3 linked regions of the Homo sapiens genome follow. The protein of the gene in region 2 purifies or fractionates together with the protein of the main gene of each other region. This does not show direct contact. Each region holds a gene or a part of one and is shown on either strand. Other genes may lie near its edges.

The links.
Region 1: the proteins of SPARCL1 (region 2) and CRYBG1 purify together in Homo sapiens (affinity purification with mass spectrometry; one large-scale study listed by BioGRID and IntAct). This does not show direct contact.
Region 3: the proteins of SPARCL1 (region 2) and PADI3 purify together in Homo sapiens (affinity purification with mass spectrometry; one large-scale study listed by BioGRID and IntAct). This does not show direct contact.

What each region holds. Positions count from the first base shown.
Region 1 is NC_000006.12:106,521,107-106,524,761, reverse strand, and holds part of CRYBG1 (beta/gamma crystallin domain-containing protein 1), read right to left. Parts: coding exon 3,309-3,655; intron 1-3,308. UniProt on the Homo sapiens protein: May function as suppressor of malignant melanoma. It may exert its effects through interactions with the cytoskeleton.
Region 2 is NC_000004.12:87,480,747-87,484,401, reverse strand, and holds part of SPARCL1 (SPARC-like protein 1 isoform 1 precursor), read left to right. Parts: intron 1-1,841; coding exon 1,842-1,978; intron 1,979-3,655.
Region 3 is NC_000001.11:17,269,583-17,273,237, forward strand, and holds part of PADI3 (protein-arginine deiminase type-3), read left to right. Parts: intron 1-650; coding exon 651-829; intron 830-1,296; coding exon 1,297-1,400; intron 1,401-1,484; coding exon 1,485-1,596; intron 1,597-3,655. UniProt on the Homo sapiens protein: Catalyzes the deimination of arginine residues of proteins.

The sequences.
Region 1 (3,655 bases), on a different chromosome or scaffold from region 2:
AATCACTTACCTAGAAAGAGCTGAATCAATTTTGTGTTCATATACATACCCTATCTGAATCCATATAAATATTGTTTTCTCATAGTAAATCTACAATCATATAACAACCACTAGTCTAAATAGAAGTGTTTATGGTATATATGGTATATTTCATAATGTACATTGCACATAGTATATTTAATCCCCCTTTTTTTTCTTTTGAGATGGAGTCTGGCTCTGTCACCAGGCTGGAGTGCAGTGGCATCATCTTGGCTCACTGCAACCTCCGCCTGGGTTCAAGTGATTCTCCTGCCTCAGCCTCCCGAGTAGCTGGGACTACAGGCATGTGCCACCAGGCCCAGCTAATTTTTGTATTTTTCTTTTAGTAGAGATGGGGTTTCACCATGTTGGCTAGGATGGTCTCGATCTCTTGACCTCGTGATCCGCCTGCCTCAGCCTCCCAAAGTGCTGGGATTACAGGTGAGAGCCACCGTGCCCGGCCTAATCCCGCTTTTTTGATAGACAAAATACATTTCAATATGGCTCCAAAACTAATCATTTTCAAGACCATCTGACAAGACCAGTAAAACCAGAAATGCATAAGATAATAAAATAGTAATTATACATGTAAAAATATTACAAAACGTGAACTACTTTCAGTGCTGACCAGGATGCCTATTTTAGGAACTGCCTTTGCTCTGACTGCTCTTGCATCACACCAGAGTGTGATATGCCCAGAAGACCACAAAAGGCTGGGGCGCAGTGCCTCACACCTGTAATCCCAGCACTTTGGGAGGCTGAGGTGGGCAGATCACCTGAGGTCAGGAGTTCGAGACCAGCCTGGCCAACATGGCAAAACCCCGTCTCTACTAAAAATACATAAATTAGCTGGGCGTGGTGGCACTCACTTATAATCCCAGCTACTTGGGAGGCTGAGACATGAAAATCGCTTGAACCTGGAAGGCAGAGAGGTTGCAGTGAGCTGAGATCATGCCACTGCACTCCAGCTTGGGTGACAGAGCGAGATTCTGACTCTAAAAAAAAAAAAAAAGGCCATAAGGGCCCCCCTAGAGCCTTATCAGAAGCCAGATGGTATATACCTATTTATGTATATATACACATTAGAAGTAGATAAACTGAAGAAAAAGCCTAAAATTTAAAACAAAATTCAGGTAAAACCTTCATGATTGAATATACAATCAATAAAAGCCCAGGACCTAAAGAAAGACCATATTTTTTAATCATAAAAAGGCCTAGAAAAAGTATAAAGATTTTATTTTTCCTTTTTATGTCATTTGACTTGATTTTCATAGGGAAACTGTATATTCTGTTATCAACTTTGTCAGACTGTAGTTAAATAAGGAAAGCGATCTAAGAACAATTAAAAAGAACAAAGTAGTAATGAATGGGAAGTGGACCAGTGGAAATTTTGTGCTTGAGAGAAATAGTTAATATTTCTATTATATAACTATTAATAGAAATAGTTAGAATTTTATGATTTCTGAGTACCATAGGCTGATTCAGTCTTATTTGTTTATAGCAGTGGTTCTCAAAATGTGGTTCAGAGGCCACTGCGGGGGTCTCCAAGATACTTTCAGGTAGTCCATGGGGTCAAAACTATTTTCATAATAAGAAGAGGTCACCTGCCTTTTTCATCTCTGTCTCAAATGTCCAGCGGAGTACAAGGCTCCATGATGTGTGATGACATCGTTGCTCTGAGCACTGGTGCAGTGTGCACTTCTACTTTCTGGTGTTTTACAATTTTCTCAGCAATTATTTATAATATAATAAATTCTGATAGGCAGAACCCATACAAACAAAAGCTCGTTGGGGTTCTCAATCATTTTTAAACATAAAGGGTCCTAACACCAAACATCTGAAACCCAAACTTTATGAAAGTTTATGAAATCACATGAAAAAGGGATCTGCACCTCTGCTGGAAACCCAACCATATATTTTGAAAGAGCTTGCAACATCACATTCTCTGACAGGATTGTAGTAAAAGCCAATACAATACATTGAACCATGCTGCAGTACCCTGTACAGACGAGGAAAGGTGCAAGGTATTTTCTGCCTAGATAAACTGTGTTGGATTGAGGTCCACACTTGCCAGACAGCCGGGTTCACAGGATGGACCACCAGAATACAAACCCTACTCAGGTTTCTAGCCTGGCAGAGCTGATCACTAAACATATATTCCACCTTCCTCTCTCATAGTCCTTTCTCACCTTAAATAAGCTTGGTAACAAAAAGGCGCAATTCACATCAAAAACCGAGTAAAGTAAACATCTTCTGAAGTGAGATAAAAGAAGATGCAGAAATCAAAATTATTCCCCAAAATCATGTTTTGCTGTCTTCTCTCTAATATTTAAGAAAAGATCCAATGAAAACCAAAATTCTTTATTCCCCACAGCTTTGCAGGGTAAAAAAAATATTTCCCTAATGAAAACTAATTCCCAATAAAGACAAAATACTGTCTCAATTGCATAGGATAAACACCTATTGCTACTTATGGGAACAAAGAGTGAATCTCACAGAGAGAAGGATTAAGAAAAAGTTTCCCTGGCTGGGGACTTCCCAAATAGAGGAAGCTCCTTCACAAATCTTCAAAATTCTAAGTATAGCACTGAGCATTTTTACATAGAATAGGTAAGAAAAAGCAACTCATCTGTCTCTGAACTCTAAAAGCTTACCTATACCTTTCATAATACAACATATAAATTCACATGTGCCTTAAAAGATTTATTGCCAGCCAGTCAGGATGGCTCACACCTGTAATCGCAACACTCTGGGAGGCCGAGGCAGATGGATCACGAGGTCAGGAGTTCGAGACCAGCCCAGCCAATATGGTAAAACCCCCGTATTTGTATTTTCAGTCTTTACTAAAAATACAAAAATTAGCCAGGCGTGGTGGCACGCGCCTGCATTCCCTGCTACTAGGGAAGCCGAGGCAGAAGAATCGCTTGAACCCAGGAGGTGGAGGTTGCAGTGAGCTGAGATTGCACCACTGCACTCCAGCCTGGGCGACAGAGCGAGACTCTGTCTCAAAAAAAAAAAAAAAAAAAAAAAAAGATCATGTGCCTTAGAGCATTTGTAGCTTTATCTCCCTGCAAGACTACAGATGCCTTCAGTGAAGACTCTTAGTACATTTTTTTCTTGCACTCTAACGGTCCCTTGTACATTGCAGGTTTTCAAATATGTGATGAATGAATAAAAACTATAGCACATAAGCTTAACCATTTCTAAAAGAATAACATGAGTTGCTCATCATCCTTCTCTTCCCTTGCTTTAAAAATACCCCAAATAAATAATAACACATTGCTACTTACCATTGTGTCTGATAATGACATTCCAGAAAAAGAAATGCTTGGGTCATACCGGCTTGATTTGAAAAGACCCATGAAGTCGGTGTCACTGTTTGCACAGTTTGGCAAGTTTGATTTAATAACACTTTCAATATGATTAGCCTTTTCCATATCATCATTCTTCAGTTTTGACAATTCAGAAAATTTAGTTTCTGGCAAGTGTAGGTTGCTTCGTGAATCCAGATCTTCTTTGGTTTTCTCTTTTTGCGGGTATTTTTCCATGTGGCTTGGACTTTTCAAACTGGAGTGTGATGTACTTGACGAGTTGAAATTGAAGACCTTTAAGGAGTTGTCGGGCAGAAGATTTGACT
Region 2 (3,655 bases):
CACACATATACAGCCATCTGATATTTGACAAACCTGACAAAAATAAGCAATGGGGAAAGGATTCCTTATTTAATAAATGGTGCTGGGAAAACTGGCTAGCCATATGCAGAAAACTGAAACTGGATCCCTTCCTTACACTTCATACAAAAATTAACTCAAGATGGATTAAAGACTTAAACATAAGACCTAAAACCATAAAAACCCTAGAAGAAAACTTAGGCAATACCATTCAGGACATAGGCATGGGCAAAGGCTTCATGACTAAAACACCAAAAGCAATGGCAACAAAAGCCAAAATTGATTAATGGGATCTAATTAAACTAAAGAGCTTCTGCACAGCAAAAGAAACTATCATCAGAGTAAACAGGCAACCTACAGAATGGGAGAAAATTTTTGCAATCTGTCAATCTAACTAAGGGCTTATACCCAGAATCTACAAGGAACAGATACAAATTTACAAGAAAAAAACAACCCCATCAAAAAGTGGGTGAAGGATATGAACAGACACTTCTCAAAAAGAAGACATTTATGCAGCCAAAAAACATATGAAAAAAAGCTCATAATCACTCGTCATTAGAGAAATGCAAATCAAAACCACAATGAGATACCATCTCTCACCAGTTAGAATGGCGATCATTAAAAAGTCAGGAAACAACAGATACTGGAGAGGATGTGAAGAAATAGGAACGCTTTCATATTGTTGGTGGGAGTAAATTAGTTCAATCATTGTGGAAGACAGTGTGGCAATTCCTCAAGGATCTAGAACTACAAATACCATTTGATACAGCAATCCCATTACTGGGTATATACCCAAAGGGTTACAAATCATTCTACTATAAAGATGCATTCACACATATGTTTATTACAGCACTGTTCACAATAGTAAAGACTTGGAACCAACCAAAATGCCCATCAGTGATAGACTGGATAAAGAAAATATGACACATATACACCATGGAATACTATGCAGCCATAAAAAAGGATAAGTTCATGTCCTTTGCAGAGACATGGATGAAGCTGGAAACCATCATTCTCAGCAAACTAACACAGGAACAGAAAACCAAACACTGCATGTTCTCACTCATAAGTGGGAGTTGAACAGTGAAAACACATGGACACAGGGAGGGGAACATCATATACCAGGGCCTGTCAGGGGCTGGGGGACTAGGAGAGGGATAGCATTAGGAGAAATACCTAATGTAGATGATGGGTTGATGGGTGCAGCAAACCACTATGGCATGTGTATACCTATGTAACAAACCTGCACATTCTGCACATGTATCTCAGAACTTAAAGTATAATTAAAAAAAAAAAAAAACGGCAGTGATCCTGAGCTCTGGGGAGACTGCAATGAGCAGAGCCCTCCTGCCAACTTGTATTGGACTTGTAGCAGGATTGCAAAATTGACTTCTGTTTCTTTAAGCCACTGAGATTTAGCATTATTTCTTACTGTAGTATCAGCTAATAGCTACCTTTTTCTCTATTCAATAGCACTTGTGCCCTCCACCTACAAATTTCAACTCTGATTCTACAGCAGTGATTCTGGGGCCTAGCTGCACATCCAAATAGATCTTGGAGCTTTAAAAACATCCTGATGCCCAGACTTCACGCCAGACCAATCACATCAGAATTTACTTGATTGGAAGCTGGCATTTGGTATGTTTTTTAAAACCCCAGGCAATTTTGTTGTGCTGCTGCCAGGGCTGAGGACCACTGTCATAATAATGGGGACCTGAGAAAGCTCTGTCAGTTGCCAGAAGTCGTTAAGCTTCCTATTATGAGGACTTGCCATAGGACACAAATAAGCCCAAAGATTACAGTACATTTTCTGCTTGTAACAGCTATTCCTACTTGTACGGACTTTGAAGTGATTCAGTTTCCTCTACGGATGAGAGACTGGCTCAAGAATATCCTCATGCAGCTTTATGAAGCCAACTCTGAACACGCTGGTTATCTAAATGAGAAGCAGAGAAATAAAGTAAGTTATCCACAGGTTAGCTTCTTCAATGTCTGTCTACAGGGCATGAGGAAGAAAGACGTGGTGGGGGGGCTACCTACCTCTGCATACTGGCAAAAGCCCACTATGCTTCCCCATGCCCGGTTAGCCCATGTGGCTTAACAGAATAATAGATGTCACCATTCACGCCACAAGGTTTCAGACACCACCAAACCGCCCCATTCTTCCCAATGGTCAGTGGCCTGAATTAGGGCTCTTCAATTCCTACCTAGAGCAAGCTCTGGTTGAGCAAAGTTAATATAAATTTAGCATTGATCTAGTCAGTCCAAACATCTTATTTAAATCTAAGCATTTGTTTTGTTCTCATAGGCCAGACATAGATGTATGATATAAAGTAAATCCATTACTCAAAATATCAGTAATATATTAAGATTAAAAAGCACAGAACATTGATTCCAAAAGCTTCCAGAGAAAATTCATTCACCAGATAGTTATTGAGTGTATCCTGGGTGCCAGAAATTGACCTAAATACTGGAGATACAGCAACGAAAAGAAAATCTCTGCCTTCATGAGTTTACATTCTGGGTGAAGAGACAGACTCTAAACAAATAAGTATATATGTGTGTGTGTATGTAATGTTTGTATATGCATATATTTGTACATACATATATATGCATATATGCAATTATATATAGTAAAATGAGCATTTATGTAAATATAACCAAATCAGCAAATATATGTATAAGTATGTCAGTTGGGATTAAACATGGTGTGAAGACAAATAAAACAAGAAGGAGGGTGTGCATTAACTGTGTCAGATGCTGTTTATAGGTTATGAGTTGAAGACTGAGAATTGGCCAGGGATTTAGCATGTCAAAGTCATAGCTGACCTTGATAGGAACTGTTCCTGGGGTGGGAGCATGTTTCAGGAGGGAAGCTCCAGTGGACAGAGTTCAACAGAGACTAGGAGGAATGGATGCAGCAAGTATAGACAATCCTTTCAAGGAGTTTTGCTATGAAGAGATAAAGAGAAATGGGGTGGCAGCTGGAGTGGAAAGTGAGTACAAGAGTCCCACCTAGCAGTGGGAGATGGTAGAGGATGTTTGCACGCTTCTGGAAATAACCCAGTCAAGAAGGAAATGTTAGTGGGGAGCAGAGAATGCGCACAACTGCCAGAGGGCGTTCTTCGATACATGTCCCACCCAGAGGAGAGGGATTGGACTTAGGTTAGGAGCACAGGAAGGTCGCAGGGAGCAAAGTTGTGGTTCTGGGAGCAGGTGGAGGTCCTGTTTGCTTCCAATTACTCAGTGAAATAAGAGGCAACATCACAAGCTGAGAGTTTCACAGGCACTGCTCAAGAATAATTTCTAGCCCCCGTCTTGAATACCTTGTCACAGAGAGCCTTGAGGGTATTAGCTATGAAACAGGGAAATTTCAATGGGGCTGGCCAAGCAATAACACACCAGGGTGAAAGCAAGACTGAGTGGGCACTGGATGGATGACCTAGAAGACTAAGAGTGGACTCTGTCATCGGGGGAAGGAGCAGCACTTTTCACTAACTAATCACCTTAGTCAATTCAGCCCTTTTCATTAAAACCTCATAGTTTAAAAAAAAAAAAAAAAAGCAGCGAACATTACTTGGTTAAAAGAAAGAGGCAAAACATACTTAAAATATTTAAAAGTTTAAAAAAGAATTTA
Region 3 (3,655 bases), on a different chromosome or scaffold from region 2:
ATTATTGTTTGTTTGTTGTTGTTGTTTTGTTTTTTGTTGGTTTTGGTTTTTTTTGAGATGGATTCTCGCTCCATGCCCAGGCTGGAGTGCAGTGGTGTGATCTTGGCTCACTGCAACCTCCGCCTCCTGGGTTCAAGCAATCCTCCTGCCTAAGCCTCCTGAGTAGCTGGGATTATAGGTGTGCACCACCACCGCCCGGCTAATTTTTGTATTTTTAGTAGAGACAGGGTTTCACTATGTTAGCCAGGCTGGTCTTGAACTCCTAACTTCAGGTGATCCACCGCCTTCGGTCTCCCAAAGTGCTGTGATTACAGACATGAGCCACCGTGCCCAGCCTGTAGATGTATTTTTGTAGGAAAGATACCTAGCAGTGGAATTGCTGGGCTTGGGGTAAACATTACTTTGTTGGATGCTGCCAAATTGTGCTCCAAAAAGGTATGAGCGCCAGTCTTAGAAAGGAAGACCCTTTCCCCCAGCCGTGGCCCCCACTGTGTATTACCTGTCCTCTCCTTTGCCAGTGGAGGTGAAAGGAGGGAGTTGTTGGAGGACTTGGAATTTTTGGTGAGGCTGCAGACCTCTTCCTGTGTCCCTCATACTCATGCTCCCTGGGCCCACAGGGAGTCACAGCCACCCCGTCCCTCCCCTTCCAGGTCCTGAGGATGTGTGTGAGGCCTATAGGCATGTGCTGGGCCAAGATAAGGTGTCCTATGAGGTACCCCGCTTGCATGGGGATGAGGAGCGCTTCTTCGTGGAAGGCCTGTCCTTCCCTGATGCCGGCTTCACAGGACTCATCTCCTTCCATGTCACTCTGCTGGACGACTCCAACGAGGTAGGGACAGAGGGGGTTCAAGAGGAGCTCCACTCGGGACCAGCCTGGGCAACATGGTGAAACCCCATCTCTACAAAAAAAAAAAAAATAGCGAGGTATAGTGGTGTACACCTATAGTCCCAGTTACTTGGGAGGCTGAGGTGGGAGGATCACCTGAACCCCAGGGAGGTTGAGGTTGCAGTGAGCCATGATCACCCCACTGCACTCCACAGCCTGGGCAACAAAGTAAGACCCTGTCTCCAAAAAATAATAATAATAAAGGGCAGTGGGGAGGACTCCATTCCTGGTAAGTCTACCAGGCACCACTGGTGTGAAAGACCCCAGACTTCTTGACCACCCCTCTGGTTCATTTCCATCTTGCAGAGAAGCAAGGGGTTTTCTTATGGACCACAGTGGTGGAATCAGAGTCCCCCCAGGCCTCTGGACTCCAAGTCCAGTGCTCTTTCTCCCCTGGTCTGCCCCTGCAGGATTTCTCGGCATCCCCTATCTTCACTGACACTGTGGTGTTCCGAGTGGCACCCTGGATCATGACGCCCAGCACTCTGCCACCCCTAGAGGTGTATGTGTGCCGGTGAGTCTTGGGGCAGTGGGTGGTCCCTCTGGCCCCCAGGCCCCGGCTCCATCCTGAGCCCCTCTTCCCTGGGCTTGTCCGTAGTGTGAGGAACAACACGTGTTTTGTGGATGCGGTGGCAGAGCTGGCCAGGAAGGCCGGCTGCAAGCTGACCATCTGCCCACAGGCCGAGAACCGCAACGACCGCTGGATCCAGGTAACCACAGCCACTGGGCAGGGCCCAGCAAGGACGCCATCCTGGAGAGAGAGGCCTTCATTTGGGGGCCACCGAGAAACATCCAGGAGGACCTGGGTGCTCCCCAGGGAACTTGCTGCCGTTTCTAATGTGAGACCTAGAGGCTTCTCTCCAGAACCTTCTGGAGACCCACGCTGATCCTGGATTCAACACCCATTCACCCACCGGATCTGGGCTAGGCACTAGGCTAGGCCCACAGGGGTGGCACAGGTGTGAGACACACACTCCCTGCCCTCAACAGCTGAGACCAGTGGTTCTCATCAAGAGGCGATGTGTCCCCAGGAGACGTTTTGCAGTATCTGCAGACAGTGCGCAGGACAAGCCCCCACAATAACATATCATCCAGTCCCACGCCTCAGTAGTGTCGAGGCTGAGAAACCTTGATGTGCAGAATGATTGCTACAAAAATACCTACTCCTACTATCTAGTGTGTAGCTGGGGCAACATGGTGAAACCCTGTCTCTGCAAAAAAGTTAAAAAATTAGCAGGGCATGGTGGCGTGTGTCTGTAGTCCCAGCTACTCTGGAGGCTGAGGTCAGAGGATCACCTGAGTTTAGGAAGGTCAAGGCTGCAGAGAGCTGTGATTGTGCCACTGCACTCCAGCCTCAGCAACAACAACAAAAAAAAAAAAAAAAAAAGAGAGAGAGAGAGAGAGAAAAAGAAATATCTAGGGTGCAGAGGCTATACCAGCAAAGCACCAGTAGGGTTTGGGGGATGCAGCATCACCTCTGCCCAGGGAATCAGTGAAGACCTCCAGGAGGGAGAGCATCTGAGCTGGACCAGATTTGGCAGATGAGGGCACATGACTTCTGCCATTTATGCCCCATTTTCTGCAGGCCAGGCATAGCATCATTTCATCTTCTTGATAACCCCCTGTAAGTCCCCCATAATTCAGGAGCTCTTAGGGGAGCATGACTGGGCCACAGAGCTGGTAAAGGCAGTGCTAGGACTCAGGCTGCCAAGCACCAGGCTGTACAGGTTGGTGGTCCTGGCAGAGACCGAGCATGCGCAAAGGCCCGGGGGTGGGAGGCAGGAGAGAGAACCTTGTGTGTTCTCCTCTGTCAGGGCACTGGTTCTGAGAAAGGCAAGGGTTGAGGTCGGAGACCTTGAATTCCAAGTTAAGGAGCTTTCCTCTTGGCCGGAGGTCAGTCCAGTGAGAGGGTTTGGGGCAGGACTCTGGGGCACGATGGGCTGGGTTTAGAGCCTGGCTGTGCCACCAACTAACTAGCTGTGAGCTTTGGGACAAATATTTTTTAATTTTTATTTATTTTTTTAAATTAATATATTTTGAATTTATTTTTCTTTTTGGAGACAGTGTCTCTCTGTCACCCTGGTTGGAGTGCCATGGCATGATCACAGCTCACTGGCAGCCTGGAACTCCTGGGTTCAAGTGATCCTTCTGCCTCAGTCTCCCGAGTAGCTGAGACCACAGGTGCAGCCACCAGGCTCAGCTAATTTTTTGTAGAGATGGGGTCTTGCCATGTTGCCCAGGGTTGTCTCAAACTCCTGGCCTCAAGCAATCCTCCCGCCTCACCCTCCCAAAGTGCTGGGATTATAGGTGTGAGCCACCGTGCCCGGACTGGATAAATAATTAGACCTCTTAGTTCCTCATTTTCCTCATCTGTCACATGGGATAATTATGGTGCCCACGCCCAGGCATGTCATGAGGATGAATGGAGTTAATGTTTATAAAGAGTTTAGGGCAGGACCTGGATGTGAAGTTCATTCACACTGGGCCATCTTTTCCTCCAGAACCAGAGGGGTCAGGACTGACCTGGGCACATTTATGGATCCAACTCAGGCCACTGTGAGTGCTTCTCTGTGTCCACCTGCCTTGGCCCAGTACTCACAGGGACACCCCCAAGGTCATGTCCATGTTCTCGTTCACCTCCGGCCTCTGTCTTGCTGTGTGACCTTAGACAAGTGCACCCCCTCCTTGAGCCTCCAGCCCCTCCTCCAGTCAGCAGGCACCCTGACCTCGGTCCTGTCCGCCTCCAAGCACAAAACATGCTTGGGCCAG